2 separate regions of the Homo sapiens genome follow, and region 1 is linked to region 2. The links come from fine-mapping of genetic effects on gene expression. A gene starts in region 2. The other region holds a variant in brackets. All regions are shown on one strand. Distances are from middle to middle. Region 1 holds the start of CYP4F8 (cytochrome P450 family 4 subfamily F member 8). Region 2 holds the start of AKAP8 (A-kinase anchoring protein 8).

Region 1 (5,213 bases), 240 kb after region 2:
AGGAGACTCCACTCAGGGTCCCCTGGCTCTGCCTTCCACTGTCTCGACCTCGTCTGCTCTCAGCTTCCCTCAGCGTTACCCTTCACAGGCCCCCTCTGTCCTCCTATGCTGAGCCCAGCATCCAGGTTGCTTTCCCAGCTGGTCTCGTTATCTCCAGAATCTGACCCTGGGTAATCCCCAGTGGTGCTGCATTCTTTGTTCCTGCTCCTGTCAGTCAGGTCTCAGCCTAGGTCCTGGGCTGCTGGGAGGCAGGACTTGAATTCCTGCCAGGCTGGCAGTGGAGGGCAACAGGCTTCTGTCTCTGAATCTCCTAAATCTGCACTGAGAAATGGTGCACAGCATTCTCCTGGCCCACATTTGGAGGGGAACTTGGGGGATGTTTTGGGAGAAGGCTTGGCCTCACCCAGCTCACCTGGCATCTGAACACTTCATTCCTTTACCTACCTTCCCCTGGTCTTGGAAAGGCAGGGTGGCTGCACATTTTGGGGCTCAGATCACCATTGGCTGCCCTCCAACTTACCCTCTGCCTTACATGAGAGGTACCAAGGACTGAGTGGCCATGCTCGGTCACCCTGAATTGGTTCTTCTACAGTTATGGTCCCCACCAGTCCCCGGGTTTTGGTTGGCTGCCCTGGCACAAAGGAGGCATCCAGGCTGTGAGGATTGGCTAGTCCAGCCCCGCCCAGCCTCCTGAAGTGTTTCCTAGATCTGGGGCCAGGAGCAAAAACCTCCTGGCAAAGGAGGAGAGGAGGTTGTGCGGGACAACCTTCTCCTGACAGAAGGTGCCAGGCTGGGGGTGGCAGGGCTGGATAGGGAGGGGCACTGCCCAAGACTGGGATGGCTCCAGGGAGCTGGCCCTGGTGATGGGTGCTTGCAGGTAACCAGAGGTCAAGTTGGCTGGTGGTTCTAGATGAGGCTGTCTGGTTTCTGGTCTCTAGTTTCCTTGATCTCTAATTTTGTGTCACTTCTCCTCTCCCCTCTCCCTTGGCCTCTTCCCCTGAGATTCCCTGAATCTCCCTCCATGCTCTTAACCATGTTTACCCATCATTGGTCCTGGAGCTCCCCAGCCCCTTTCCTAGGCCTCAGGACCTCACCCTCCATCCCGTCTGCCCTGCAGGATGTCGCTGCTGAGCCTGTCTTGGCTGGGCCTCAGGCCGGTGGCAGCATCCCCGTGGCTGCTCCTGCTGGTGGTCGGGGCCTCCTGGCTCCTGGCCCGCATCCTGGCCTGGACCTATGCCTTCTATCACAACGGCCGCCGCCTCCGGTGTTTCCCGCAGCCCCGGAAACAGAACTGGTTCTTGGGTCACCTGGGCCTGGTGAGTGGCAGGAGGATGGATCTAGTGTCTCAGGGTGGAAGGGTGGAAATGGGGCTCAGGCTGAGGGGGTGGGCTCGGGTCTGGGACGGCAGAGAAACTCACTCATTCCTCTGATCACTCACTCATTCCTCTTCCCACTCATTCCTCTCCTCACTCACTCATTCCTCTCCTCACTCACTCATTCTCCTCACTCACTCATTCCTCTCCTCACTCACTCATTCCTCTGCGCACTCACTCATTCCTCTCCTCACTCACTCATTCCTCTCCTCATTCACTCATTCTCCTCACTCATTCCTCTCCTCACTCACTCATTCCTCTCCTCACTCACTCATTCTCCTCACTCACTCATTCCTCTTCCCACTCACTCATTCCTCTCCTCACTCACTCATTCCTCTCCTCACTCACTCATTCCTCTCCTCACCCACTCATTCCTCTCCTCGCTCACTCATTCCTCTCCTCGCTCACTCATTCCTCTCCTCGCTCACTCATTCCTCTCCTTGCTCACTCATTCCTCTGCTTTGCCATGCCAAGCCTTTCTCATCTCCTTGTCTAGGGGAAGTCACCCCTAGACTGTTTTGAATTCTTTTCCTGACTGTTTTCAGTACACTAGTGAACCTCTGATGGGTTCCTGTGGCAGAGTGGGGGTTACGCAGCAGGTATTCACCA[T/G]TATTTCCACATTATCCACTGCTGTACTGGAGGCCTCTTGGGCTCACTGTCTAGAACCCACTTTCTGCCTGGCCCATTTGCTTGTGTCCATCCATCTCTGGGCTGGAGTTTTCCCATAGGAAGTAGCTATACACCCCCTACCCTCACATCATGACACAGCTGGGCCAGAAGAGAGATGTGTGCCATCTCCACCCTCCCCCGTGCAGGGGCATCTTCTTTATCCCCACTAAGCTGTCCCAATGAGTTGTGTTGCCCAACCTGGATAAAAATTGGCCAGTGACTTCCTCTTTAAAGTTACCTTTGACCCTTCAGACCCTGCCCTTTCACTTAGACCTGCTGTCCCCTTTGGGCGATTTGGCATCAGTCTGTTCTTTGGCAAATGGCAGGAATGATGGGTGTGTCCACAGGTGCAGGGTGAGGGAACACAGGACGGACTAGCTCTGAGCTTGATGTGCAAAAGGTGCTCCCTGGTGAGAGCCGCTGTTCTTCCTGACAGACAGTTAGAGCCACCTCTTCTCCCCTGGGGGCTGCTGAGAAAGGAAGTTCCACCGTGTACAGACCTTCTCCATGGGAGGGCCTGGGGCCCCTGAGGCCCAGCCAGGACATAAAAGGATGTGGGGACCAGCCCTGGGGACATGTCCTGAGGCCACATTGCTGCCCACACACCACACTTGTGGAGCCCACCCCACGTGACTTTCCGTGGGCTGGAGCCACTCCCAGGATGAGAAAATCCATCCTCTTTATTCAAGGTGGGCTTCTCCATGAACAGACAGTTTGTCTTCCCCCTGTTCCCTGGGATGTAGCCTTGGAAGTTAGATACTGCCCCCAAGAGAAGGGAGCAGGAGGGAGTGGAGATTACCCCTATGTGCGCAGAATCTGGACATGCTGTTCATTGCAGAGGCTGTGCCACCTCTAAAGCCTGCAGTGGGACCTGCTGTGGCTCCTCCTGGGAAATGTATTTATTTCTCCAGAGTAATAGAATTAATAGGATATCAATATCTACATCTATCTATCTATCTATCTATCTATCTATCTATCTATCTATCTATCTATCAGTCCGTCTGTCTGTCTATGATCTATCTAATCTATGGAGAGACAGAAGAGGGCATTTATTATAGGAATTGACTCATGTTTATGGAAGCTGAAAAGTCCCACTCTATGCCTTCTGCAAGCTGGAGAATCAGGGACACTGGTGGTGCAATTCCGTCTGGGTCCAAAGCCCTGGGAACCTGGAGTTCTAATGTTCAAGGGCAGGAGAAGATGGATGTCTCAGCTGCAGAGGAGAAAACAAATTCACCCTTCCTCCACTTTTACATTCTACGTGGACCCTCAACAGATTGGATGATGCCCACACAGACTGGGAAGGGGAGATCCTCCTTCCTCAGTTTTCCTTCAAATGCTAATCTCTCCTGAAACACTCTCACAGACATACCCAGAAATAATGTTTGACTGGATATCTGGGCATCCCTTAACCCAGTCAAGTGGACACAGGAGGTGATGGCCCTTGCCTTGCTTGCAGGTCACTCCCACAGAGGAGGGCTTGAGGGTCCTGACCCAGCTGGTGGCCACCTACCCCCAGGGCTTTGTGAGGTGGTTGGGCCCCATCACTCCCATCATCAACTTGTGCCACCCTGACATCGTCCGATCTGTCATCAATACCTCAGGTACTCCTGCAGAGCTTGTGGTGGTGGGCACAGGAGAACATTGGAGGGCTTCTAGATCTCATCCCCAAAGCTTCTGTGCAGCTCTTGTAGTACTCAGCCCCTTCCTTCCTGCTTCTCTCTCAGCCACCTTCCTCTTTCCTTCCTGTAGTCACCAACCCCAACCTCAGTGTCTTTTCTCTCTGCTGCCATCTTCCCCACCTCCGTGTTGTTCTGGGAACCACTGGGGCCCCGAGAAGCCTTAATCCAAGGCCCTGTCCTGGAGGAATCCCCAAACTTGAAGAGATGGAGCAGTACAGAGACATCCCCAACTTCATGGGGTTCAGAATGGGCCAGGAGGAGATAGGCTGTGACAGAGCATAGGAGAACAAGGTTTCTACTGGGGCAGGCTGGAAGGCTTCCTGGAGGAGGCGTAGCAGGAGCTGGGTGTGGAACGATGAGTGATAATTTTTTTTTTAAAGCAGGGGCAGGGTGATGCAGTGGGCATTGTTAGTATTCAAGGCTCCGGGCCAGGCTTGGCATTGGCCTTGTCCTTCTGCAGGCCCAGAGCAAGGACAAGAAGATGAGAAGGAGTTGTGGTTGGTGGAAGATCTAGGCTGCTATTTCCATGACATTCACCTCTTGTGGGTCGATTCCTTCTAATCCCATCCTGTGGCACTTCCACCATATGTTCATTGCCCTCTTGCTCCAGGCCCCAGGAATCTCCAATAGGAGACACCACCCCAGCCTGGAGCCGTACCCTTGCCCTCTGCCCTTCCCATCTTTGGACAGGCCAGGGAGAGCAGCAGAAGGGGTATCACGCCACAGAGACCATGGCTCAAGCCCCAAAATGCTGAGTGACTCTGGGCAGGTCCACGGCTCTCTATGGGTGCTGAGGTGTCTTTCCATTGTGAGTGGTAGAAACTCAACCCCACGCAGTCTAAGCCATTAAAGAGAAGCTATTGACTGCAACATCCAGGGAGGTTGGCCTTCAGGCACAACTGGATCCAGGTCTCACCTAATATCATCAGAATTCTGTCTTTAACTCTTATTCTGTAAATGTGTTTTGTAGAGTGTTGACTTATGCTTGGGTGTTGCAGAACATGTTGGACCATGTAGGAGCCATGTCAAGACATGCTGGGTGTGCTGTACCATGTCAGGGTGTATCATTGCTCTATAGTGTTGTTGCAGCCTAGTCCGGTCCCCTTTATGCCCCCCACCCTCCTTTCTTCTTCTGCCCATGGCCTCCTTCCTGCTATGCTGGGCTTGGAGAAAAGACGTCCAAACCTCTGGCTGGGAGCCACCCTCCATACCCAAAGTCCCTCCTCTATTCCTCTCCATGGACCCTGATGGTCCTCATTCATGTCAGATGCCATTACAGACAAGGACATAGTCTTCTACAAGACCCTGAAGCCCTGGCTGGGTAAGTAACTGTAGGTGGACGGGACGGGGACCAACTTTTGTGGCCAGGGGAAGATTCTGCCCTTGCCCACAGCCTTTGGCTGCCGTACTAGGGGATGGGCTCTTGTTAAGTGTTGGTGACAAGTGGAGACACCACCGTCGCTTGCTGACGCCTGCCTTCCATTTCAAC
Region 2 (5,213 bases):
CACAACTGGCTAATGGCGTCATCGCATTCCACCTGGCTGAGATCAAAGCAGAAAAAGAAGGGTGGGAAGTGGGCTTGGAAGTCAGCTCCGCCCTGCAGAGGGACCTTGGCCAAGGACCTCACCTCTCCAAGATTTCATCCACAACTGAGGCTAACACAAGACAATCCACTCAGCATGAGGACACGTTCCCCCACCCACCACACAGCTAGGAAACCAGTTCAGAGTGCCATCACAAGTACTTCGTAACTGAAAACAAGCATGGGAATTTAGTGACATAAATTGCATCTTTCTAAGCTGCACTTCCTGCCACTTTTTGTTTTTTTGAGGCGGGGTCTTGCTCTGTTGCCCAGGTTAGAGCGCAGTGCCGCGATCTCGGCTCACTGCAAGCTCCGCCTCCTGGGTTCACGCCATTCTCCTGCCTCAGCCTCCCGAGTAGCTGGGACTACAGGCGCCTGCCACCACGCCCGCCTAATTTTTTGTGTTTTTAGTAGAGACGGGGTTTCACCATGTTAGCCAGGATGGTCTCGATCTCCTGACCTCGTGATCCGCCAGCCTCGGCCTCCCAAAGTGCTGGGATTACAGGCGTGAGTCACCGCGCCAGGCCCTTCCTGCCACTTTTAAGGCCTCCACGGATCCCCTGGACCTTTAAGTCCCAGAGCCTTCGCCTGGCCCTAAGGCATCAGACAGCACTCTTCACCCCTCCACACCCCCCGCCCACTATGGCATCTGTCTGGTCCCTCCAGGAAGGAGAATGGGAACTGTGTTCTCTTTATTTCTGTGTCCCTGGGGCCCAGCACTGAGCTGCGCGCGGGTGGCCACCATGCCTGTTAAATGACTTCACTTTGATGAGGCAGGAACATATCCATGTCTCCCTCACCAGAACAACTCCCCCGCCCCCGGCTAAGTGCCTAGTGCGTGCCGATACACCGCAAGCACCCAGCAAACCCTGTTGTCCGGAATGCCATTCAGAGACAAGGGAGCTAGGCTCATGGGTTACGAGACTTGACCCAGTCATACTGCTGAGTTTTGCCCTCTGCTATGCTACGCCTTCCCCTCCGTCATACCGCAAAACCTTCTAAATTCGCATCCGTGCAGCAGAAAGGCAGACTGCAGATTCCAACAGCAAGTAACCAACCTCGAGAGACTGCTTCTCTGTGAAGCTCTAGTGTAAGTGGCACGCACTATTAACCTTAAAACGCTCCCGGAAACACAAGAAATCAGGGAAGCTTAACTATCTCCAGTGTGTCTGAAAGGTTTTCGGCAGGTAGGAAGAGGGGGTAAAAAAAACCTCTCCAAACTAAGAATGAAAAGAAGGAATACAATACCTGCAGAAAAGATCTGATGGGAAAGAAGGGAAAGAATGGTGAAATCTACCCAGGCTGCGGAAGACCAGGAGAGCCAGGCTGAGCCTTCGCTAGGACCCGGAAGACACCAAAGCACACCGCGCACGCTGCCGCCTCAGGACCGAAACCTCTCTCTGCAATTTCTGGTGCTGGGATACTTTTGCCCTGCCACTTCTCAAGATCGACAACTTCTCGAGCTCCTGCAGCCAGGATCAGACCACTAGCTTCTCTACAACCAGTCGAGCTCCACCCAGCATGTCCCAACTATCCCCTGTGGGCAAACTTTGCTCCCAAAAGGCTCTGATTCCAGAAGCAGGGAGCAGGCAGCTCGAGAAGATCGGCCCTACTGCAGGCCAAGCGCTAAATCCTAGTGGGGAAAGGACACGTTCCCTCCTGCACAGCCCCTCGGCCCCTCCAGGCCACCACAACAGACTGCCTAAAGGAGAACTGCCAATGTCACCAGCCCCAGGGCACATCAGGTTTCCAGCTTTATACGAACACTCAGCATCTGCCCCTCACCATCCTGTCCCAAGCCAGCACGCGCCGGGTACAGAGCTGGAGCCCGGCGAGGCTGACTCTCGCGCCGGCAGCACTCGGCCCCACCGCGCTGCACCGGGGACTAAAGGCCCGACCCCGCGCAGCCCGACGGCTTCCGGGACAGGCGCCCTGGGCCACGTGAGCCCAGCGGAGACCCTACACGGCCCCGCGGGCCTAGGGCAGGTCGGGAGAGAGGCGGCCCCCGCGGTCCGCCCGCGGCCCCAGACCCAGCTCCCCGGGTCCGACCTCACAACCCCACGCTGTAGCTCCGCCCCCCTAGCGCCGCCATTTTGTGGCGTCTTCGGAAGAGGAAGCCGGGAGTGCAAACCCCGGGGTCGCTGGGGGCCGGAAGGACTCCGCCGAAGGTGAGGGGCAAAAACGGCCCACACTGTCTAAGACGCCCCCACGAAGCCCACCGCGGCGTCTGCCCCAACCCCGAGTCCCGCCCGCCTCCTCGGGGCCTGGCGGCCAATCCGCACGCAGAGCCCCGGGAGCGACGGCGCCAAAGCCCAATGAGCGGCGCGCGCGCGCCCTGGCCGCCTCTCCGGAGGGCCCAGCTGGGGCAACCACGCTCGGGACGAAGGCCCGGCCGGCGGCAGTCTGCGCAGCGGCTGCGTCGCCCGCACAGAGCCTTCCCTCCCCGCTCCGCACCCAGCAGCCAACACAAACCTCCGTAGCCCTGGTCCATGTCTTCGACGCGGCCCACCAGCAGCCCCGTTTACTAGGCGACCACAGCACGCATGCGTTCAGCGCACCTCCGCCATCGACTACTGGAAGACCAGGCGCACACGTCACTACTTCCGCGCGCCCCCATTGGCTGGTCTTCACGAGGGCCCGCCCTCGCCGTCCCAGCTGGCCTTTCGGGCTGCTACGATCCAGCTCCGTGGCCTAATGGGAGTTGTGGTCCCACCGCGGTGCCCGACGGCCCGGCCCGCGCGCATGCGCACCCCGCCCCTCTGCCCACCCCGCCCCGCCCGCGCGGCACAGTAACAGAGAAACCCGGAGGTGGGATGGGAAAACTTTATTAGGTTTGGTTTCCAGCTTCGGCCACGCGGGCTCCGCCCGCCCCGAGCTCGGGTCACGGGGCGCCCCCGCCGCCCTCCTCGTCGTCCTCCACGTCGAGGCCCGGGATGCCGCGGATCTGGCGTTGCAGCGCCCCTCCCAGCAAGGGCACGGCGCCCTCCTCCTCCTCCTCTGGGGGCGGCGGCGGTGGCGGCGACACGGCCCCGGGGGCTGGCTCTGGGGGCACGGGAGGCTGCGCCGGCACGCCCTCTGCGCCCTCCGAGATCCCTGCCGCTTCGCCCTGCGCCCCCTCGTCCAGGGCACCGCCCTCAGCCTCCTCCTGCTCCTTCTCCTCCTCGGGGCTGTCGGTGAAAGGGTTCTCGCCCTGTGGGGAGGGGCGCGGACACTGAAGGGAGGGAGCACAGGCGGGGACTAAGCTGGGGACAGGGCAGGCCCGGACCAGTGCCTCACCTTCAGGTAGCGCTCCAGCTTCTTGCTGATGAGCTTGTTGTTGAGAATACTGCGGGCCACCATGAGGGAGGACTTCTTGGACTGCTCCATCATGAGCTGCGGGCAGGGCAGAAGGAGCTGGAGAGGCTGCTCTGAGTGCCCTACAAGTTGCTGCCCCGACCCTGCCAGCTTAGAGGGACCCCACCCCGCCCCTGCACCCACGCACTTCCAGCCCCACCAACGGAGGGCCACTCCACAAGCATGGAACCACAACCTATCTGATCTTTGTTCAAATTCCCTCTCCTTCCACACCACACTTACTGTAGGTAAATAAAAATACAGATCTATATATCTCTAACTTTACGGCTGTATTACAGAAATCTGATTTGCTTACAAAAAAGCTATAAGCAGTGAACAATTAAGAAACTAAGAGCCAAAGGTGGGTGCAACCTGTAACAAGGTGCCAACTAGGCTAATAGGCAAGGAGCACTTTGGGGCCAACGGGGAAGATATAAAAACAGGAACAGATATTTAATGAAACGTCTTTTTTAACCCACAGAATTCCAAGAATGAAGAATTATTCCCAGTCATGCAAGGGTGAAGAGAGTCTTCTCTGCTGGTGGGAGGATCAACTGTTTCCGTATTTTTTGGAAAGCAGTTTGACACAATGTATGAAAAGTAAAAATCTGTCTCATTAATCCCTTCCCAGAACGTATCCTAAATTTAAGAACTGGAAACATGCGTGCACACTGATTGTAGTGGTGAAAAATGGGAAAACACCTAAACGTTCCTCAGTGCAGAAGAGGTTAAATAAATCGTACATTCAAAAGAACATCATGCAGCCCTTCAAATCGGGCTCATCTCTGCACTGGCATAAGAAAGGTGTATAATATAGTACTGTCTGCAGAGCATGCCAGAGCCATTTTGTCTGGAAGGATTTCCATCAATATGCTGGGCCATCTCATGGTGGGAGTACAGGCAAATCTCACTTTGATCATTATAAAAACCATAAGGTAAAAGAAGGATATTTTTGGTGGGGTGGGAGAGCCCATTGAGTCCTTCCCACTCCATTTACATGTTTCAGAAAGCCTTCTCACTTGCTGTTTCTACTCTCTCCATCTTCATTTTTTTTTTTCCTTAGCACGTTTTCTCTACTACTGGAGGAAAATATTAACAGACATCATACATGCTCACAATAAACTAAAGATACACAATTAGGATACTACTATAGACCGTTCCCCCAGTGACTCTCACTTGCCAACAGTTTATCCTCCTGGTTCTAGATGCCCAGATAACCACACCATAAATTCTCCCAAGTGAGGCACATTTATGTTGCTTCCAGATCTTCTCCACAATAACCCAGCAACACTAGAATAAACTTGTACACTTCCATGCTGGTGCTTTTCATTCTAACCAGGTTTGGTTTCAAAGTGATAGTGCCCAATTAACTGCAGAACATTTGCAAGTCATGCTTCTTCCACCTGTGTTAAAACAATGACCTGGTCCTCCTGCCTGCCCATCAGCACTGGATGTTGTCACTGTTGGGTATTTTTGCTGTGGATAAAAGACAGAAGAATCTGTGCTGCTGCCTCCCACGGCATTTCCCTGCCCACCGGCGAGTGAGTGCTCTGGTAAGCACACTGGAACACCCGCCCACAGTTTATAATTTTCTAACTATTTTCTGATCTTGGTTTTCATTTTTCACATTTAAATTTTTTTTTTTTTTTTTTAAGACAGTCTCGCTCTGTCGCCCAGGCTGGAGTGCAGGGGCTCTCAGTTCACTGCAACCTCCGCCTCCCAGGTTTAGGCAATTCTCATGCCTCAGCCTCCTGAGTAGCTAGGACTACGGGCACGCACCACCACACCCAGCTACTTTTTTGT

The links. PIP is the estimated chance that this variant, and not a neighbour inherited with it, causes the effect. A credible set is the group of variants that fine-mapping cannot tell apart.
Region 1: its variant is the best candidate, but not a certain one, in a credible set for the expression of AKAP8 in uterus (GTEx, PIP 0.52).

The regions. Positions count from the first base shown.
Region 1 is chr19:15,614,499-15,619,711 of GRCh38, forward strand. CYP4F8 (cytochrome P450 family 4 subfamily F member 8) reads left to right here and starts at 720. Exons shown (of 13, transcript NM_007253.4): 1 at 720-782; 2 at 1,118-1,316; 3 at 3,502-3,646; 4 at 4,992-5,045; 5 at 5,137-5,213. The coding sequence starts at 1,119. The variant T/G (reference allele first, on the strand shown) is at 1,983.
Region 2 is chr19:15,377,164-15,382,376 of GRCh38, forward strand. AKAP8 (A-kinase anchoring protein 8) reads right to left here and starts at 2,624. Exons shown (of 14, transcript NM_005858.4): 1 at 2,550-2,624. The coding sequence starts at 2,568. AKAP8L (A-kinase anchoring protein 8 like) reads right to left here. Exons shown (of 14, transcript NM_014371.4): 13 at 3,354-3,449; 14 at 2,887-3,267. The coding sequence ends at 2,959. RefSeq lists enhancers at 1,765-2,680, 2,615-2,909, 2,681-3,595 and silencers at 1,870-2,419, 2,760-3,249.